Regions from separate parts of the Homo sapiens genome. Here regions 1, 2 and 3 are each linked to region 4. Evidence: fine-mapped expression QTL. A gene starts in region 4. Each other region holds a variant in brackets. All regions are shown on one strand. Distances are from middle to middle.

Region 1 (5,152 bases), 220 kb before region 4:
TGTATATTTTTACCAAACACACAAAAAAAACTTGAAGCATCAAGAAGAATGATGTCCAAGCAGTGGATGAAGTTTCTGCTCCCTCTTTGCACAGCTGCCCTGCTCTGGACCTATTACAGAATGGTTGTCCTTTTCTCATCTTGTACAGTAGCAGATGTTTACCATAACAGATGTTATACTAAATGTTTTTGAGTGGATTTCATCGGAGGGTTGTGGAATCTGCTCCAATCTTTCAATTTAGCTTACCAGTCCCAATGCCTGCTCCTCTTGAGGGTTCTGCTAAGGGGGTGGAAGGCGCCAAAGGAAGGGAAGGTGGCTGAACTACCAAGCATTTTTCTGGGTAGCATGTGGCACAGACTCCCTAAGAGAAATATCAGAGTCCATGGGTTTATGTAGTAGATGACTAAAAGCATTTCTCTCCAGTTGCCTAAATAAACAACATACTTGCCACTTCCCAATAGAAAGAGATTTGGAGATAGTAGAATGATATTCCAATTAAATATTTCAGTAGCTTTCAGATTATTTTGATTGCAACCCACATTAAGAAATAGTTTTACATCATGACATAATATGTGCATTCATATTGACGCATTTATATAACAGAAGAAACAATTGAAGTTTTGTGATACAATACTTGTCCCTATTACATGAAGGCCACGCTAAGATTTTAGGCCACTCCTTTCCACAGTTCTGATCTGATCTACTTTATTTCACCTTTTTTTTTTTTGAAATGAAGTCACACTCTGTCGCCCAGGCTGGAGCGCCGTGGCGCAATCTTGGGTCACTGAAACCTCTGCCTCCCGGGTTCAAGCAATATTCCTGCCTCAGCCTCCTGAATAGCTGGGATTATTGCTGGTTGTAATCTATTACATTTATTTTAGGACTCACGAATAGGTCTAGATCTGCAGTTTGAAAAATACTGAACTGTGTCTGATGCTGTCACCACCGGGTTAAGATGAAACTGCTTGCTCCAGAGGACTAACGACAGGTGAGACTCCTATGCAAGTGAGAGAGTTGATTGGGTAGGTCGATTTCTCTTCAGTCTCAGAGGGGAAAAAGCCTGATGTGGTAGCACAGAAATGGATTGCAAAACGAGTGCGTGTGAGCCACGGGTCTACAGGCAAGGCTCAGCAGGAGAGCCCAGGATCACGTGTCTGCACTTCAGCAGGAACACTGAATATGGACCGTCAGCAAAGTCCACCCTTCTTGGATATCACTGCAAAATTATAAAATCAAAGCTAATTTGGGAAATCGGGGAAAAGGCAAAAACAGGAAACTCTGTGGTCTTGCTAAAGAGTTCAGTAATGAGAGGAGTCCATAGACTATGCTAGTTTTTCAGAGAGAATTTAAAGTCAGGAAATCTTTGAACACACGTGGTGTCACCTGTACTTTTTGGAGCCTTCTGCACCCACTTAACCATGCTTCTAACTCTGTCTTTCTTGCTGTGTTGTCTAGGGATCTGGGAAACAGAATGTTCGCACCTCTTGCCTGATTTCTCTGTTGATTTTTTTTCTGTGCATGTCAGAGAGGTCTGGAGGAAGTTAGCCACCTGGGGAATGTGTGCTTACTGGCTATTCATAGTCAAACCCAGAATGGGAATTGACATTCATTGAAATCATGAATGTCATGAGGAAGCACATATAATGTAGAGACAAGTACCAGGCACCATAAATACACGTTATTTTTGGCAGATTATGTTCAAATTATTATATTTTCCAGGGCTGAGACACCAAACTAAGTCTGGGTGTGGTGGTTTATGCCTGGAATCCCAGGGCTATGGGAGACCAAGGTGGAGGGATTGCTTGAGGCCAGGAGTTTGAGACCAACCTGAGCAGCATGCCAAGACCTCATCTGTACCAAAAAAATAAAAAATAAAAATAAATAGCTGGTCATGGTGGCGTGTGTCTGTATTCCCAGCTACAGGAGGCTGAGGTGGGAGGATTGTTTGAGCTAGGGAAGTAGAGGCTGCAGTGAGTCACGAGCATACCACCGCACTCCAGCCTGGGTGACAGAGTGAGACCCTGTCTCCAAAAGAAAAAAAAAAAAAGAAAAAAAAAACTAATAATTCACATTCAAAACAAAATGATACCTGTCTATGGCAGCTCCAGAACACTCCCTAATGTGCCATAGATGTTTAAGAAACTCATTCCACACACTTCCTTTAAGGCATTCTCAGGTTTCCTAAGGCAAGCTAGCTTCTACCTCCCTTTTCTAAAGATGTGCCTAATGATCTAAAAGGAGGTGGGCCCCTCTATGCTACCTCATACAGGTACTTGGGCAATAACAAGATTGTGGTTTCCAGAATAAATAATGGGCACTGCCACCATCGGAGTCCATAGGATGCTGTATGAGTGCCAAACAGTTCAGGCTGGCATCTCTGTTAGTTTCAAATGATAAAATGCTAGGCTATAACAATGTTTAAAGATTATCTCTTCCAATTCCTTCAATACATTGTCCCAAGTCACCTGGGACACCGTGAATGGCCTTCCTTCCCAAGCTCATCTCCTCCAAACATATCCAGCTCCTCTTTTCCATTTTATCTATTACGATAAACAGAGTGTCGTTACCACAGAGTTCAGCAATTCATTTCCCTCTGTTTTTTCCATGTGTCTATTATTCTATGTTTCCATATAGATGGCAGCATCCCCCTTTGGCCTTCCCCTCCTTCTCTGGCATGTATTCTAACTGCTTGTCGACGGGTGCCAGGAAGTCTCAACCTTATGTAGTCTTTCAGACAGAAGGAGAACCTAGCTGACAGCATTGTCTCCTAATTTTCTCGTAAGA[C/G]GAAGTACAGCTAGAAAGGAGAAGCATAAGTTTCAGAAGAGGAATCTGACCACGTGGAGGAGACTTTGCTGTATTTTCTAAGAAATCTTTGTGATTAACCAAATATGTTGGTTATGACACTTTCAGCTGCCTGAAACAGAAAACTCCCACTCACACAGCTTGAAAAATGCAAACAAATGTATTGTCTCACATACTTAAAGTCCAGAGATGGCTTGGGTTTCAGGAAAGATACGGTTCAGTGCTATTCAGTAATGTCATCAGGGACAGAGGTTATTTCTGTCCTTCCAGTCTGCTGTCCTCAGCATGGGTTCATTCAACAAGATGGCGGCCACTGGATATCAGCTGGCCACACACTTCCTGTTCATATCCAGTAGGAAAGAATGAATGGAAGTAACCTCTGCCCAAAGGCCCCTCCTTTAGTCTGATTGGGCCAAATTAAGTAATACATTCATCATTGGCCTAATAACAGTTGCCAGAAGGATGTCATGTGCTAACTGGTATAGATCAAGGCTTTTCAATAGCAGTAACACTGACATTTTGGACTGGATTCTTCCTGTTGTGGGGGCTGTTCTGTGTACTATAGAATGTTTAGCAGCATCCCTAGGCTTTATAGTCCCTCAGCACCACCTGTCATGAGAATTAAAAATGTCTCCTGACATTGCCAAATGTCCCCTGGAAGACAGGAAAAATCACCCCAGGGCTGAGAACCACTGGTATAGACTAATCAGGTTACTTATGGCCTCTGCACCTTAGTTTTCTAAGATAGTCATCCTATCCATGTGTAAAATGGGACTCATACTAGTAGCTCTCTCATATGACCATTATGAGAATTAAATGAGTAAGTTTATGTAAACACACAGAATATAGTAAGCAATACGTAAATGATAACTATTACTTTCGTCCACTACTCAGTGTATGAAACATGATGTGCTCAAATATTTTCTGAATAATTCAGTGGAAAAGTCACTTGGATCCATGTAACAGTGATGTAGTTCAGAAAAATGGTATTCTACAACGCTACTACTGCTGAACATTTCTGAAGTTGGGATTATATTCTGAATTTATGAGGCACGTCATTTCTTCATTTGAGAATGTCACTGGAATATAAGGCCTTATTACATGTATAAGGGTAAAACCTGGTGCCATTTGGAATTTAAATGGCCACTATGAAATGAAAAGGGTGAGCTAGTGGGAATCAGGGACCTTAGATGGACTCGCTGGTTTATTCATCCAGAACATAGACCAAGTCTGTTCAGCCTTGCATCCTGGAAGCCAAAACTGAGAGCATTTCCTTAGCTGAAGGTTGTAGAGTTGGAAGTGCAATCTGAAGTCCAATGAATAAAGGTGCTGAGAGGAGTATCTTGATAACATAATTTAAAAGTGTATGCATTTTTCCACTTTGTTACTGTTGATAATAATGTTTCAATTTGAAGGGTGCACCATATGGTTTTAAAAATCACTTTCACATGCCTCTCTGGAAGTTTCGTTGGATGAAAGGGAGAGTGAATATTTGCAAGTATATGGCAAACCAAACTCTCGTATCTCTGAATTTACAAATAAATTTTAAAAGGTGGAATTCAGTTGGAGAATTGCCCATAGGGGCTACCCTGACCAAACTCATGAGTGTTAAACCATTGAGTTTTTAGAGTTCATTTTTGCTGTAGCAAAGCTTCTCCTATTCTAAATAATATCTCAAACCAGAGATTCTGAAGCATATTTTTAAAAAAGAATTTGATATTTGGGTTTTTTTAAAGGATTAAACTATTCTTAATGGGCAAAATGAGAACTTTATTGGACTTAACCTTATTTTGTAATTTAGTACTTTGAAATAGCATATGGGGAAATACCATAATAATTTCTATGCTTGGGGCTTATGAAGGTCTTGCAGTAGCTCTGCTTACCAGAGCACTGAGGATTCACAGCTTCAGAGTAAAGACAAACAGCTCATTGTTGTTTCTACAGGGTCTTTCAGCCCTTTCTCAAATATTCTTTCCATCCCTGTAGCTTTCTACTTTTGTTTGGGGATTCCCTTTTCTTTGAATGTTTGCCCTAACTTCTCCTTCAAGTTCAGGTCAATTTAACTTCTTCCAAAAAGACTTCCTAGATTCTCCAAGGAGTGATAGATTTTATTCCTCTACATGTATTATTTCATAATACCTATTACATTTATAACTGACCCTTCCCATGCCACCCCTCAGTACAAATTGTGATGGATTTGGATGAATTCCAAATTGAGTGAATAAACCAGTGAGTCCATCTAAGGCCCCTGATTCCCACTAGCTCACCCTTCTCATTTCATAGTGGCCATTTAAATTCCAAATGGCACCAGTTTTTACCCGTATACATATAATACATACACATGCATATG
Region 2 (5,152 bases), 260 kb before region 4:
AACAGCCACAATAAAATACAGTCACGACAATCCCCACGTATGCCATGGGACCATATTTTCTGACTCATTAGGGGAGGAAAAGGGAAAATTTTACTTTTCGATGTAAGCAGAAGCTAGGGATAAGCTCAAAATATGTAGGAATCCTTGTCCATTTGAGACCCAGCAGTCTTCCTAAGTTTAAAACTCAGAAAGTTATCATATGCCTCTTTTGGGTAAAGATAATTCCTCCCACTATACCATCTCCATACACTCGTTTCTACTATCATCCGACCCATATAAACTAGACAGGAAGCTCTGAGTGTCTGCCATAGACCTCTGCAAGCAAAGCGACCCCAAGCATTTCTTTCTGCCTGAATAATTACGGTTCAGTTCATCTGTGATGAGAGATATCAGCCCTGCCACAGCTAATTACTATAGGAATTGGCCTTCAGTCAAACGCAATCAAGTATGGATTAACTATGATGCAGAGCACTACTCAATGTGCTGTGTTGGGGAAAAACTCTATCTAGTGGTGGTCCTTCACACTGGATAGCAACAATGCAATCACATCCTCTCTTGGGAAATGTAAAAGATACTACAGAAAAGGAGGGTCACAGGAGTCTCTGCAGTAACCTGAATCATGTCAAAGTATTTTATTGCTCCCCAGTCCAGTCTAGGCCTAATGTGCATTCCATTTTGAAAGCCTTGGACCAGAATGTGGAACACAGAATGGTTGCAAAACTGCTGAGCACTTGACCCATTCCCTTACTTCCCTGTAAATTCCAACAATAAAGCTCCAACACTTAGCATAAGCTGGGTGTGTCTCTTTTTTTCTTTTCTTTTCTTTCTTTTTTTTTTGGAGACAGAGTTTTGCTCTTGTTGCCCAGGCTGGAGTGCAATGGCACAATCTCGGCCAACAGCAACCTCTGCCTCCTGGGTTCAAGCGATTCTTCTGCCTCAGCTTCCCAAGTAGCTGGGATTACAAGCATATACTACCAAACACGGCTAACTTTTTGTATTTAGTAGAGACGGGGTTTTGCCATGTTGGTCAAGCTGGTCTCAAACTCCTGACCTCAGGTGATCCACCGCCCTCAGGCTCCCAAAGTGCTGGTATTACAGGCATGAGCCACTGCCCCCGACCGTGTCTCTTTCTTGTAGCCTGAAACAGCAAGAGCCTGACTAATATACTATATGTTGAAAACTTCAGAGCATTTAAAGATTTCAAAAATATTTGACGTGTCATTTGAAGACTATAAAGTATTATGATAACTCCACCCTGAAAAATTCTTCCAAAAATTTAAACCTCATCTAAAGCAATTAGACATTTGGAAAATCAAGTAAATCATGAGAAACATACAAATATCAATATATAGACATCTAGAAAACACAATATTTGTAAGTAAAACTATTTGTTGTTTCAGCAATAGGAGGAATGAGCAAAGGCTACCTTAAGGAAACACAAGCACGTGGCATGGGCCCAATATTTCCTTTGAAATGTATGCCATGCCTGTAACTCCCTTTCTACTTGTACTGGGATGCCTAATTCAGACCCTTGGTGCTTTATAGATGTGTCTTGCAATAGAGATGTAATGACTGGTTCCCATGATTCTGGTCTATGTGTCCTTCAATTTGTCCTGCATGCCAGAACAACTACATTAATGCCACTTCTTTGCTTAAAATGTCTCTGTGGCTTCTATTTATGATCCTCTTTCTGGGTTGCCAGGAACTATATCATCCAGCCTTATTCCTTTGTACTCCACACCTAATTCTATTCCAGCTTAGCCATCTCATCATGAAAATGCTCTGCTCATTCCCATGGCTCTGCCCTCACTCCTCATATTTCTTTCTCTTGGCATAAGGACCCCCTTCATCAGCTCTATCCTACTCTATCTAAAGGCTGGCTTATGTCCCACCTCCCACCTGAAGCCTTCCCTGATCTATAGAGAAAAAAGTAGATTAGTTGTTGTCAGAGGCTGAGGCATAAGGCAGGTGATATGGTTTGGCTGTGTCCCCACCCAAATCTCATCCTGAATTGTATTTCACATAATCCCCATGTGTTTCGGGAGGGGTCCAGTGGAGATAATTGAATCATGGGGGCAGTCTCCCTCATCCTGTTCTAATGATAATGAGTTAGTTCTCATGAGGTCTGATGGTTTTGTAAGGGGCTTCCCCCTTCTCTGGGCACTCATTCTTCTCCTTCCTGCCGCTATGTGAAGAAGGACATGTTTGCTTTCGCTTCCACCACGATTGTAAGTTTCCTGAGGCCTCCCCAGCCCTGTGGAATTGTGAGTTAATTAAACCTCTTTCCTTTATAAATTACCCAGTCTTGGGTATGTCCTTATAGCCATGGGAGAACAGACTAATACAGTGGGGAAATGGCTATGACTGCTAATGG[G/T]TATGGGGTTTCTTTTTTGGGGAGATGAAAATGGTCTGGGATTTGACAGTGGTGATGGATGCATGATTTTTATCAATATACTAAAAGCCATGAAGCCTTCCCATCTCCCACATGAAGCCCTCCCTTGTCACCCACACCCCTCACTCACCTGCACTCCTCTAGGAACTTCACAGAGCTTATTATTTTAGCTCACAAATCAACCCTTATAGAGTTACTGCTTCTCTGTATGGGCCAGATTTAGTTGCTAAGCTAGATAATATACACCTTGACTTTGAGTATGAGGAAACTGTTTTCTTGTTGACATTGAATAAATATCCTAAATTTTACCCACAATCCCTAGAGGCAGCTTCAGAAAGCAAGATTTATTAGGAATCTCTTTTTGCCAACAGGGAAATGAAAAACGTGTATATTGCAATCTCCTGTAGTCAGTGTTCAGCCTGAAAAACAAAAACTGGTGAGCAGGTAGTTCTTACCACCAGAGGACTGTTAATACTGTTGCTATTAACTATAAATATGATTTGTAATAAAAGCCCACATGAGACATAGTGCCATTAGGAAACAAGAATTCCCAGAGGCCACACATTAGGAATCAGGCTGTGTGATATAAAAAACACTGAACTGGAGTCAGGTAGTCTGGGATCTCCTGGACCTGCAACTCCATCGCTGTATGACTTTGGTCAAGTCCGTTAATTTCTCTAAACCCTACTTCCCAATTTGGAAACAGAGCACATCAAACTAGTGACCTCTGAGGTTTGTTCTAGCATTAAAATTCTGGTGACTGTTGCTATGCCTGGGATAATTTCTCACTAAGTTAGAAGGAAACATTGGGATATCTTACAAAATGACTTGGCCTATTATCTATTTCAGAATGCTGCTGACCTTCTGTTCTCGGTTATTGGTATCCTATCTGGCTAAAGAAGCTCCTTCCTTGGTAACCCAGGGGGAGACCCAACTTTAGCCCCACCGTTGGCCTTGGGGCCAAACTACTGCCTAGCCTCTGCAAAACTTGCCAGTTGGCTTTTAAGATTTTCTTACACATATGCTTATTTATTTTCAGTTGGTTAACCTTGAAGTTGAGGCCAATTTTGTTTTGTGACTTTTGTTCCAAGCTGTCTGTTGAACAGTTTAAGTCTCTTGGAGCCTTTTATTTAGCTGAACCTGGATTGTTCTGTTCTGGGAACTGCACCCCCCTGACTCCCCACCGTGGTGCCCTGGATAATTTAGGCTGCAACCTCTCCTCCTTCCTCTAGTGACATTGCAGAGCACCTCTGCGAACTATGATGCACACACCTTGTTTTATGAGATTTCAGTTCCACAAGGAGAATAACAGAGAATGGAGTAGCTGAATGACTGGACTTGAATTCAGTGCAGATTTTGTGACATTCAGGACATTTTTTCTCCTTTTTTGTTAGCAGCCCCCAGAGCTATCTAACCACAGGAGCTTGAATGACACACCTACCTCTCAAGATTATAGAGTCTGCCTCAAAAGCCACCACTATGCCAGCTTCCTGTGTGGGTCTATAGACCCCTTGGGAGATCTACATGATAGTGCCTGAACGGAGACTGAGCATTAGAATGCATCTTAATTTCAAGCACATCAGCTCCACTGCCAATATGGATTCAGTGATCCAAAGTGTTTAAATCCAAGTCTGGGGTGCAAGTTGATGCTCTTAAGTGGCTGTTGTGGACCTGGGGTTCCTGTGACAGTAAACTTGGGCTTGAGAAAGGATCCAAAGAGTGCCTGGGCCTCAAGAAGACACTACCAAGGAATGAATGGCCCTCACTGAACTCCTGTGACATAATAAGATATCTTCACCATTGAATAAGGGATTTTCCTTGAAAATATTATGCTAATTGAAAGAAACCAAATTGTAGAAGGTCACATATTATATGATTTCATTTATATGAAATGTCCAGAATAGGCAAATCTATAGAGACAGAAAGTAGATTCATTCTTATCAGAGGCTGAGGGGTAAGGTGGGGAAATGGCTTTGACTGCTAGTGGGTGTAAGGTTTCTTTTGTGGGGAGATGAAAATGTTCTAGAATTTGAGATTGGTGATGGATGCATGATTTTATCAATGTACTAAAAGCCATTGACTTGCACACATTAAATTAGTAAATGGTATGGTACATAAATTACAACTCAATAAAGCTGTTTAAAAAAAATACGGCATTCTGTCTACTAAAATAAAACAAAAGAAATAAGTAAAACCAGACTTTCACAGTCAACAAGTCTGTCATCAGATAATGCTGATTAATAGTAAAACTGTAATACACTCTCCCTCTGAAGTTGGAGTGGGCTCTGCTGAAAATAGAAATCTCAGGCATATGAAGAGGTTGGTGTCAGTCTGTTCTTCGTGGAATACATTTAATGAGAATCTTTTGCTTCTTTCTCTAAAGAAAGTAGAACTGAAAGAGGAGGGTGTCAGTTTCTTAGCAGCTTGCAAAGCCCAAATCAATATAAAAAGAGCTTCCATTTCTCAAGTATCTTCTAGGTATTCAGTGAATACCCAGGGTTAAGGCTATTTACATGCATACTTGCTAATCCTCACCACAACGCTGCAAGGTAGATATTCCTATCTCTGTTTCACTTAGGAGAGAAATTATGTTCCCAAAGTTGCAGAGCAAGTAAATAGCAGAACCAAGATTAGACCCAGATCAGTCTAACTCCAAGGCCTTTGTCCTCAGTATCTCTCAACCCTCAATTAGAAGAGTTATCACGGCCCTGGCTGAACCTGCCTAGGTTATTTAACAAATTTTTAGCATTTTGAAGCCAT
Region 3 (5,152 bases), 210 kb before region 4:
AGCATGATCCGATCTTGAACTTCACCATACTGTAGGTTAACTACTTTGTGACAAAGAAACGCCCTGCTAGTGGTGCCTGTGCACCTAGTAGAGATGAGCTGAGTTCTGAGCCATTGGTCAGGATTATATCACAGTTTGCACGAGAAAACAAATGGGTACTGCCAATATAATCAAGGAAAATTCTGCCCATTTTTGGAGCTGAAATTTTAAAAACCTGCATAGGTGAGTAGAATAAAGGGGTTGCAAGAACACACCAACCCTCCCTACAGCAAGTGAAAGGTAGGACGCAACCCACAGTGGACATAACTGGGCTGGCCTGGGCTTCCCTTGATGCTGGGTTGTGATACTGTAAGATTTTAATAAGATAATATATTTAGCTTATTTAAAACAATGCCTGGTACATAGGAAGTGCTCAATAAATGCTGACCTCCTCCTCTTCCTCTTTCTTCTTCCTCCTCTTTTTCTTCCTTTTCTTTTCTCCTCCTCATCACTCCCTTCCTCTTCTTCTTCATCTGGCTTCTCCTTGGAAATCCTCAATGACAGAGATACACTGAGGCAAACCTACCTTCTCTTTATTTCCATTCATTGATGTCCAACCTGTCTTCCCATGAAGGCTTTCAGACAGCCAAAGATAGCTATTAGTACGTCCAGAACCTTCTGTAAAGTCACACATCTACACTTCTCTCTAATCATGTTTTCTCATTCCATGTGATATCCAGATTTTTTTCCATTTGTTTAAAGCCTTTTCATTGCCTATGGGTGATGCCTTAGTTGCACACGATCCTAATGCAGTTAGTTCAGGAAGAAGGAAGTGTGGGCTTTTTTCTTCTCCAACATAGGCATGATTCCAACTCAAACATAGTTTCTTGGATCTCTTTGAAGAGGTAGAGGTTATGAACACGGTATCTACCTAGCTGTTATCACTCATTATACCCACCCCAGACACACATGCACATTCACCCTGCATCTCTGCTCTTTTACTAGGGTTGAGGTATGAGCTTCTGTATGACATAACTCCTCCTTCCCCCATGATGGCTGCTGTGACACTCTGAGAGGGGACCAAATGGGTGCTGGCCATTCTGCGTTTCTTTTAGTGCCACAAAAAACTTCTTCAATACTTGAAGCAGAGTAACAGCTGTGAACTAGCAGAGTGATCCAGAAATCCCCCAAATCCTACATAGCAGCCAGTGATCCCAGGGAGACCTGGCTTGACTTAGCAGGAGGGCTCCACGGCAGAGAGTGAGTGATGCCCATTCTGAACCTGCAGTTTTAAGTCTCTGTTCCCCTGGTGCTTGGGTACTTGATGTTTACAGCTTCTCTCCTGAGCTGCGCCATTCCTCCTGTCTTGCCTCCCTGTTGTGCTCCACCCGTTGCTGATTCCTGCTTGTCTTGCCAACGTCAGCTCTCCCCAAACCTTAAAACACCTATGCTCAACAGTCTGCTTTTCTTTGTATATTTTAGGCTCTAGTACCTGATTCCCCTTCAGGCATTAAGCTCCTTCAATAATAACTAACAATTCTGGAGCAAGAATTGTCAGTGAAAAAAAATTAACATTTACTGAGCATTTACTATTTGCTAGACTAAGTGATTTACATGCAACATATCATCTAAACCTCACAAAGACCCTCTCATATAAGGTAGCTCATGTTATTGGCTATTTGTTATATGTTAATATATGTTACATGTGCTTATATATGTGTGTGTGTGTGTGGGTGTGTGTATATATATATATATATATATATATATATATATATATATATATATATATGTTATATGTTATTGGTTACAAGAAAAGAAAATGGGGGCCAGGCATGGTGGCTCACGCCTGTAATCTGAGCACTTTGAGAGGCCAACGTGGGTGGATTGCTTGAGCCCAGGAGTTCAAGACCATCCTGGCCAACATGATGAAACCCCCATCTCTACAAAAAATACAAAACCTAGCTGGGGGTGGTGGCATGCACCTGTAGTCCCAGCTACTCAGGAGGGCTGATGTGGGAGGATCATTTGAGCCCAGGAGGTGGAGGTTGCAGTGAGCTGAGATCACATCACTGCACTCCAAATCCTGTCTCAAAAAAAAAAAAAAAAAAAAAAGAAAAGAAAAGAAAAGAAAAGAAAAGAAAATGAGGCTTGAGAGGTTAGATATCTTGTACGAGGTCAACCAGCTGGTAGTGGTAGAACTGAGGTGGGTACCCAGTATCTCTGAGTCCAAACTGTAATGCTTCTCCAAACAGGAATCCTCCAGTAATTAACAATAATTCCCTCCCATGGGGCATCTTGGGATTCCAACAGGAAAGAAGAACCACTGTCAGTTATGAAGCAAGGGATTTATTATAAAATTTAGACCTTACATAATTATGGAAGAAGCAGAGAAAGTGAAGGTGCCACTGGAGAGTTGAAAGATCAGAGCAAGAGTAAGTAACAGTTATGCATGTCCTACTGCAGAAGTGAAACTGCAAAGGCAAGCTCATGGGAAGCCCATGAGAAACTGCCTCCACTGCCAATATATGGCGATAGGCCTGGACTCTCAGACCACTGTTGATCAGTGGGGTCAGGTAGGAAGATAGGTAGAATGTAGAGGAGATGACAGCAAGGACAAACTGGAACCTGCCAGCACCTCTGCATCTGTCGTCATGTCTAATCACAATGACTTTCAGAGGTAATCATGCTGCTTCACTTTAATCTTTCAAATCTCATGCACATTTCTTTTTTGACAACTCCAATCAAGAACCATATCGGTGGGGGGAACTCTGGGAAATATACTTCCAGGTTAATCAAGTTGACATATGCAAACCATCCTGCCTTAGTCTGTGTTGTGCTTTCATAAAAGAATACCTGAGACTGAGTAATGTATAAAGATTAGAAATGTATTGGCTTATGGTTCTGGAAGCTGGGAAGTCCCAGATGGAAAGGCTGGCATTTGGCAAGGGTCTTCTTGCTAAGTCATCTCA[T/C]AGTGGAAGGCACAGGGGGCTGGGGACCAGGGACCAAACTCACCCTTTTAGAATGAACTCAATCCTGTAGGTTTGTATTAATCAATTCATGAGGGTGGAGCCCTCATGGCCTAATCACCTCTCACTAGACCTCACCTCTCAACACAGTTGCAATGGAGATTAAGTTACCAGCACATGGTTTTTTGGCAGGCACATTTAAACCTTAAATGTGCAAACTTCTTCCCATGTATTATCCTCAAAAGCAGCAGGGCATGTAATCTACTGGAGATTCCATGCATTATCTATGATTCTTAGGGTACAATAATGCTTACAAAATCTAAGTATTAATTGGTTCACTTGTAATTCAATAACTTAGTATGTGGCTGTTATTCATTTACTTTCTTTTTCCTATTTCAGAAGATCAGAGGAGGGCTTACCATTTTAGTGCTGACCATTAGTTTAAATAAAAAAGAAGTTAATTTTAAAAAATTCATTACAGACAGACAAGATGATAAATTTTTCCAGCATCAATGCATAGATAACAATTAATGCTTGACATAGATTCTATTTAAAACAAAATAATGTTTTAAAAAATTCTTCAGTAGTGGTATGCTAAGGATTCCAGCAAAGCCAAACAGCCTTCAGGCATAGGATGAATCATCTAATTTGTTTGTCAAGGCTCATTCAGCTGGAAAGGGCTGTACTTTCATGCAGGGAGAATTTCTAATGGCAGCTTTCTGGTAGCAGGCATCACACCACCGGAATGATATTAGCAGCTCACCACCAAAACCAGTGGGCAAACTCCTTTACAGCTGATTTATGGGTATATTAGTCAGCTCTGGCTGTCATAACAAAATATCACACACTGGATGGCTTCATAGAAATGTTTTCCCCTTAGTTCCGGAAGCTGAAAGTACAAGACTGGGGTCCCAGCATGATCAGGTTCTGACGAGGTCTCTCTTTCTTGCTTGCATATGGCTGCCTTCTTGCTGTGTCCTCCCATGATGGAAAGAGAGAGGTTGGGGTGGGGAGGAGAGAGTGCATGAGCTCTGGTATCTCTTCCTTTTCTTACCAGTGCACTAATCCCAACCCATCATGAAGACCTACCCTCGTGACCTCATCTAAACTTAATTATCTCCCATACCATCACAATGAGCACTGGAGTTAGAGCTCCTACATCTGAATTTGGTGGTGGGACACAATTCAGTCCATAGCAACAGGCATTTCAGACGGACCTGGAACCTTGAAGTTCTCAGGTTTCCTGCCAGCCTGACTGGACCCACAGTCTTTACACTGAACCCATTCTCTTCTGCCTTGGCTCAACATTCATCTCTTATTGGTTTTAATGTCACCAGGCTAAGAAATTCTCCTTCAGCCAAGAGTCTGATTTTTTTTTTTCAACATGAAAATCCCCATGGATATTTAGAGGGAAAAAAAGCAGCCTTCCATGAGTGTATGGCATAAGGCAGAAGGAGGCAGGTGCCCTGAGATGAGCAGATCTGTCCTCCACCTAGGAACACCATTCAATCACTCATTATACAATTATTTTGAGCATCTTCTCTGTACTAAGCACTGTGCTAGATGATGTGGGTACTATGGAGAATAACATAGATGACTCATATCTTGATGCAATGGACTGAATGTTCATGTCCCCCAAAATTCATATGTTGAAATCCTAATCCCCAATATTATGGTATTAGGAGGAGGGGTCTTTGGGAAGTGACTAGGTCATGAGAGTAGAGCCCTCATGAATGGGATTAGTACCTTATAAAAGACACCCCAGAGACTCTCTTACTCTCCTTCCAACAGGAGAGGATACAGTGAAAAGATGGAAAGTGTGCAACCTGGAAGAGAACCCTTGCCAGAACCTGACCATGACCACTCCAGCACCCTGATCTCAGACTTTTCAGCCTTCACAACTGTGGGAAATAAGTTTCTGCTGTTTATAAGCCACCTAGTCTATGGTACATTTGTTAGAGCTGTGCAAACTGACTAAGACACTGCACAATGCCAATTTCAGATACTCTGTCACATTTTCCAGGCTAATAAATTCTTGTCTGTTACAATTTTGTCTGCCATTGTGACTTTGGAGAAGAGAGTGACATATTTATTTCTCTATATTTTCTCCTTTCACATTCTCTCATCCTCATCCTACTATAGGCCTCTGTGGCTTCATCTAAGTAAATTAGAGAGCAGGGACCTATGCTTTATCGCCAGTTCCCTAA
Region 4 (5,152 bases):
ACCAGGGTGGCTAGAAAGGGAACACATTGTTCTCCTCCAACGACTAGGGCAACGTTCTGAAGTACAGTGGCAAAGTTTCTACGGGCAACCGTCCATGTTTGCCCAGCTGAAAACATAACTGCTTCTCCCTCAGCCTCACCACCCTTCCCCTTGGGGAAGACCAACACCCCAATATTGCCTCTAGAAGACTCAGCCGGCCAAATCCTACTTCCCACCTCCATCCCAGAACCCTTTAGCTCCCGCTAAAAGCTACAACCCACCGAAGCGGGCAGATCACCTGAGGTACAAAGTTCGAGACCAGCCTGGCCAACACGATGAAACTCCCGTCTCTACTAAAAATACAAAAATTAGCCGGGCGTGGTTGTGCACGCCTGTAATCCCAGCTACTCGGGAGGCTGACACAGGAGAATCGCCTGAACCCCAGAGGCAGAGGTTGCAGTGAGCCGGGAGATTGCACCACTGCACTCCAACCTGGGTAACAGATAGAGACTCTGTCGGAAAACAAAAAAAAAAAACCTACAACCCAATTTCTCGGCTGTCCTCTCCAACATGTTACACCACCAATATCATGCACACTTTGTCCTAAGCCTCAGTTTCGGATCTCTTGCTCTTTTCCGTGAGCCGAGTTGCATGCCAGCAGCCTAGTGCCACTCTATCAACTGCTGCTGCTGCGGTGCCAAGTTTACGTGGGGGAAATGGATTCTGAAGTTTTCAGCAGTTTCTGCAGCTCCCACCAACTCCGGGGTCGTCCTCCCTGCCCCCTCACTCACCCCAGCCACAGAAAGTCAAGCGTATCGTTAGGGTTGCCCTCTTTAACCCTTCTCTTTTTGGAGTGGCGTTCGCGCCTCTCCTCTTTCTCAGACTCTAGCTGGTCCAAGCACCGGAGCTTTCTGGGAGAGGGCGATGGAGAAGGGGACAGACAGCGGCCGGCCCGGGGGGTGTCCGAACAGGCAGGTTGGTGGGTTAAGGTCTTAATCTTGACTCGAGATCTCTCCCCGGAGTTCACAGAGTAGGCGACGAAGCCGAAGCAGCTGGAGCGCGACCCGGAGGAGTCTGACTTCTCGTTGTCTTCATAATTTTCATTCGTTGCTTTCTTCGTGGACTTGCGGCTGGGGGAGGATCCCCGCTTCCCGCCCCCGAGGGAGTTATAATTATCCACTTTGAGAGCAGCCCCTTCCCACTGAAATGTCCCTAAAGTGGGCGCCCTGCCCCTCGGGCCCCCGTCCGAATCTCAGGGCCTCACGGAGGTGGCCATACCCTGCCGCCGAGGGGTTGGGGGGTCCGGGGGAGGGTGGGGGCGCAGGCCGTAGGGACTGCGCGCTGCTGCTGCCTCCGCCCGGACCGGCTTCTCCACTGACTGCGCCGAGGCCCGGGCTCTCCATTGTTCGGTCACATTGGAAGGCCCCCGGGACCCCGAGGCGGGAGCCGGCCGCCCAAACAACGCTCACCGTTACACGCCGCAATCGAGGCGTCTCAACCATCGCCAGAACCAGGACGATTGCTCCGAAGGCCCCACCACGAGGAAGGCAGCCAGGCGCCCGCGCCAACCAAGCGCCTTGTTTGCGCTCCACAGGGGACCGCACCGCCACTCCATCCACAGCGCAAACAAACCACTGCGAGCCCCAGGGCGCAGGCCGGCCCAACGGCCTCCAGGGGCGGCGCTTCGGCCGCAAGTAGTGAAAAGAAGATCAAAACAACTCACCCCGCCCTTCCCAGAGCCTGGCCAAGGGCGCGCCCCACCAGCGCCAGCCCCGACGGGTCCAAGCCACCAGCGGCGGAAGCACGCGGGAGGAGCACTCATGCCGGATCTCAGGCATGGGCCGGAGAGGCCGCAGCGTAGGGCTGGGACTGGAGGGGCAGGCAGCCGAAAAAAGAGGCTGGGCGGCGCGCCTCGCGGGGTAGCAGGGGCGGCGCGCCTCGCTTGCGTGACACCGGGCCGTCCGGGGGCTTACCTGGTCGCCGAGCAGGCGGGCGGGTAAAGCTAGGCCGCGAGAGCGAGGTTAGGAGAGGAGAGGAGGCCGCAGTACTGCTCACACGCTCCGCTCTTCTCCCACTCTCGACTCTGCAGAGCCGCCAGCAGCCCCGCACCCTTTATCCGCGGCCCGGGGCCGCCCCCGGTGCCCTGATTGGCTCCCAGCGGCCAGGAGCCCGGGCCGATCAGCTGATGCGGTCCCGGGCCCCGCGGCCATTGGGCGAGGAGCCCGGCGGGCGCCGCTGGGGTGGGGGCAAGCGAACTGGGAAAGAAAGAAAGAAAGAGAAAGGGGCGTGGGGGAGGGGCAGGGCGGCGTGGGGGAAGGGAGCGGAGCCGGGAGGGCTGAGGGCAGAGGGGCGAGTTGCCGCCAGGCCGGGAAGCCTCGGCTCGCCGCCCACCCGCCAGCTCGCCAGGTGCCGCCCCACGGCCCCCAACCCGGGGTCCCGAGGCTCCCAGCAAAGCCCGCCCTGGACCTCTGCCCTGCCGCCTTCACGGGGAATAGTTTTACGAGGAGAGCTCCCTGGGGAAATGCGGAACCAGGGAAACCGAATTTAGCCTTTTGTTGCGAGGGAGCCTCCGAGCCCCGCTTCCTGCGGGCAGGGGTTAGCTTGAGAGGGAGCGCGGGGCGCGGGACCCGAGGGAACTTTGGGCGGGCCTGGGCTAGGGCGGGTGCCGCGCGGGCCTGGGGACAGGCCGGGGTTCCCAAGGCCTGGAAGAGCCGCCCGCTCCGGCTCTCTTGGGTCTGGGGAAATAAACAGAACTCTGCCATTTCACATTTGAAATCAACGTGCTGTTTCTCTAATTTTACAGAGAGGATTCTGGAGGGCGGTAGAAACTAAGTCTGGAGACCTGTCTCATACTGCTGGCCAGACCCTAGGCAGGTCTTTCAGGGCCCAAGTTTCCTCATCTGCAAAATAAAGTGGTCATCGAAAATGACCTGTGGAGCCGCCCACTAGATTTGAAATTCTGTGTGCAAACTGCCCCCGGAGCAGCTGAAAGGAAATCGAGGTGTTCACTTGCCCCCTTTGAAGTCCAGGGATTGTCAAGAAATTCCTTTAACGAATTCTCCCTGATTTTGCTTTATCAAGTGCGGCTTCTTGTTAATCTGGAAAATGGGAATACATACCTCTCCTCTCAGCTTGCCGTGATGGTTGGGAAAATGTGTATGTGAACACAATATTGAAATGTACCTAGAGACACAACATAGGTAGGTAGGTAGGTAGGTAGGTAGATACTGCTATCCGTACTATTACTCGATCATTCTATTTTTAGTGCCTGAAATCTACCTGATGGTGTCCAGATTTTATTGCTTCTTTCAGTTTAAAGAGCAAGAATTTATGCTTCCAGTGCCTTTGGAAGAGGAAGGGAAGAAGTTTGTTCTGGTTATGTTTTGTACCGCAAATGTGGAAAAGAAATGTTGCCTGCAACCACACACACATAACTTGGCTTCTTTGGTCAACATCCCTTTCCTTTAAGAGTGTATAACACTGTAGTGCTTTTACATGACAGATGCAGCATTCATCTCAAACAGGGTTTTTTGGGATGTTTCAGACTGGTGACATTTTGGATTGGGTAAGGTGCCTTACAAATTCCTTGTTAAATTTCAGTGCTGCCCCTTGAAGCATTACATTGTGGTGGCTAAAGGCACGGCTGCAAGTCAGGTAAACCTAGGTTCAAATCTGGGCTTTCCCTTCATACCAGCTTTGTGTTGGCCAAATCACTTAGCCACATGAAGCCTGTTTCTTTGTCTATAATAAAAGAGGGATAATCATTTTTACCTCATAAAAGGATTAATTGTGATAGCACATGCAGAAGAGATTGAGTAGTCCTTGGTGCATCGTAAATGTTTAGAAAACAGCAATTATAATTATCATAGGCCAAGTTCTATAATCTGAGGTGATTGGATTCTTTCTTTCCCCATAGCGACTTTTGAATACAACTTTTCTGACTCAGTGTAATGCTTTACCATTCATTATATCAAACTGGACTTAACCTTGGTAACACAGTGAGCTGTCTTCATCTCTTTCTGTAAAGGTTTGAGTTTAAATGGTCGAGGAAGGGGAGCAAAGGAGGAGAAAAGTGATATTTTTATTTTAAAAGATGTTATTAATCATTTCCAGATACCAAACTACCGAACCATAAGCCAGAGCCTCTGCTGCACACACCACCAGCCCCTGAGGTGGGGATGACAAACATAACAGAGAACGGAATGGTAAGGCGTGAGTGCGGTTCTGCAGGCTTATGGTATTTCTGCCATTTGAGTGCCTGCTTCCCTTCCTAGATGTCTTGACCTCATTGAGCAGTTTATTCATTGTCATATCCCCCAGTAGTGTCCACGGTGAGTGTTCAATAAATGATATTTGTTAACCACACAGAAGTGACAGCAGCACCATCAAGAGAACATGTGCTTTGAGCTGCTTTTCCAAGAATGGAAATGGATTTGCTTTGATCCATTCATGTGACCAGGGGCACGCTTTGTAAGGGTTAGGAACATAATACATGACCACTGACTCTTTCAGGAGTGAACAAGAGGCCTTGTCCTCCTTGGCCAGCCCCACATTTACTTAAAATGATGAAATTAGGGCGCAGATGAGTCCAAGAACTGACCAGGGAGGCTTGAGCATAGGCGAGAAGTAAAAGCAGAAGAAAACCCTTAACTGGTTCACCCGCAGAAACCCAGACTGTACTTTTAGAGAAGTTAAAAGTAAAACAGCCTGTTTCATCCAGTTTGACTTTGCTGTGTCTGCTGCCCTTTCTTCTCCTTCCCCTTCTTCCCTAAATTGCCACCCGCCCCCATTCTTCACCCCCACCATAAAAAGAGCATTAGAATGCTTGAACCCATGAACTTTTCTGTTTCTTGGTACACACCATATCAGTGCTGACAAGGGGTTCCATTGCATGTGCTTTGAAGTCATATTTTTCTCTCTTAGAGTAGAATTGCCATGTCCAAGGGGTGGGTGGAGTGGGAGAGCAATTACAGGGAAAGATTTTGTTCCAAATCTGCAGAAATAGCCTGAGATTAAAAGTATTTCTTCAATGTTGTTCTGCTGCCTGAAATAAAAGCTTTGTATTAGGATTTTGCTCTACTCCCAAATCTTATCTCTATTAGGAAACAACTTTTCTCTTTTTTTTTTTTTTTTTTTTTTTTTTTTTTGAGACGGAGTCTTACTCTGTTGCTCA

Direction of the effects. Positions count from the first base shown, and alleles are read on the strand shown. Sizes are in standard deviations (SD) of each study's normalised expression. Not every link is listed here.
With allele C in place of G in region 1, the expression in monocytes after Pam3CSK4 of the gene that starts at base 2,064 in region 4 is lower (large effect, 0.92 SD a copy in Quach 2016).
In carriers of allele T in region 3, the expression in macrophages of the gene that starts at base 2,064 in region 4 tends to be lower than with C alone (moderate effect, 0.71 SD a copy in Nedelec 2016).

The links. PIP is the estimated chance that this variant, and not a neighbour inherited with it, causes the effect. A credible set is the group of variants that fine-mapping cannot tell apart.
Region 1: its variant is the best candidate, but not a certain one, in a credible set for the expression of GLUL in monocytes after Pam3CSK4 (Quach 2016, PIP 0.84).
Region 2: its variant is the best candidate, but not a certain one, in a credible set for the expression of GLUL in whole blood (TOPMed, PIP 0.61).
Region 3: its variant is the best candidate, but not a certain one, in a credible set for the expression of GLUL in macrophages (Nedelec 2016, PIP 0.53).

The regions. Positions count from the first base shown.
Region 1 is chr1:182,168,266-182,173,417 of GRCh38, forward strand. No RefSeq gene overlaps it. Among named protein-coding and RNA genes, the nearest start is that of ZNF648, 110 kb to the left of the region's middle. The variant C/G (reference allele first, on the strand shown) is at 2,785.
Region 2 is chr1:182,132,278-182,137,429 of GRCh38, forward strand. No RefSeq gene overlaps it. Among named protein-coding and RNA genes, the nearest start is that of ZNF648, 73 kb to the left of the region's middle. The variant G/T (reference allele first, on the strand shown) is at 2,375.
Region 3 is chr1:182,182,907-182,188,058 of GRCh38, forward strand. It overlaps the pseudogene YPEL5P1. Among named protein-coding and RNA genes, the nearest start is that of ZNF648, 120 kb to the left of the region's middle. The variant T/C (reference allele first, on the strand shown) is at 2,949.
Region 4 is chr1:182,389,727-182,394,878 of GRCh38, forward strand. GLUL (glutamate-ammonia ligase) reads right to left here and starts at 2,064. Exons shown (of 7, transcript NM_001033044.4): 1 at 1,953-2,064. RefSeq lists a silencer at 1,800-2,479.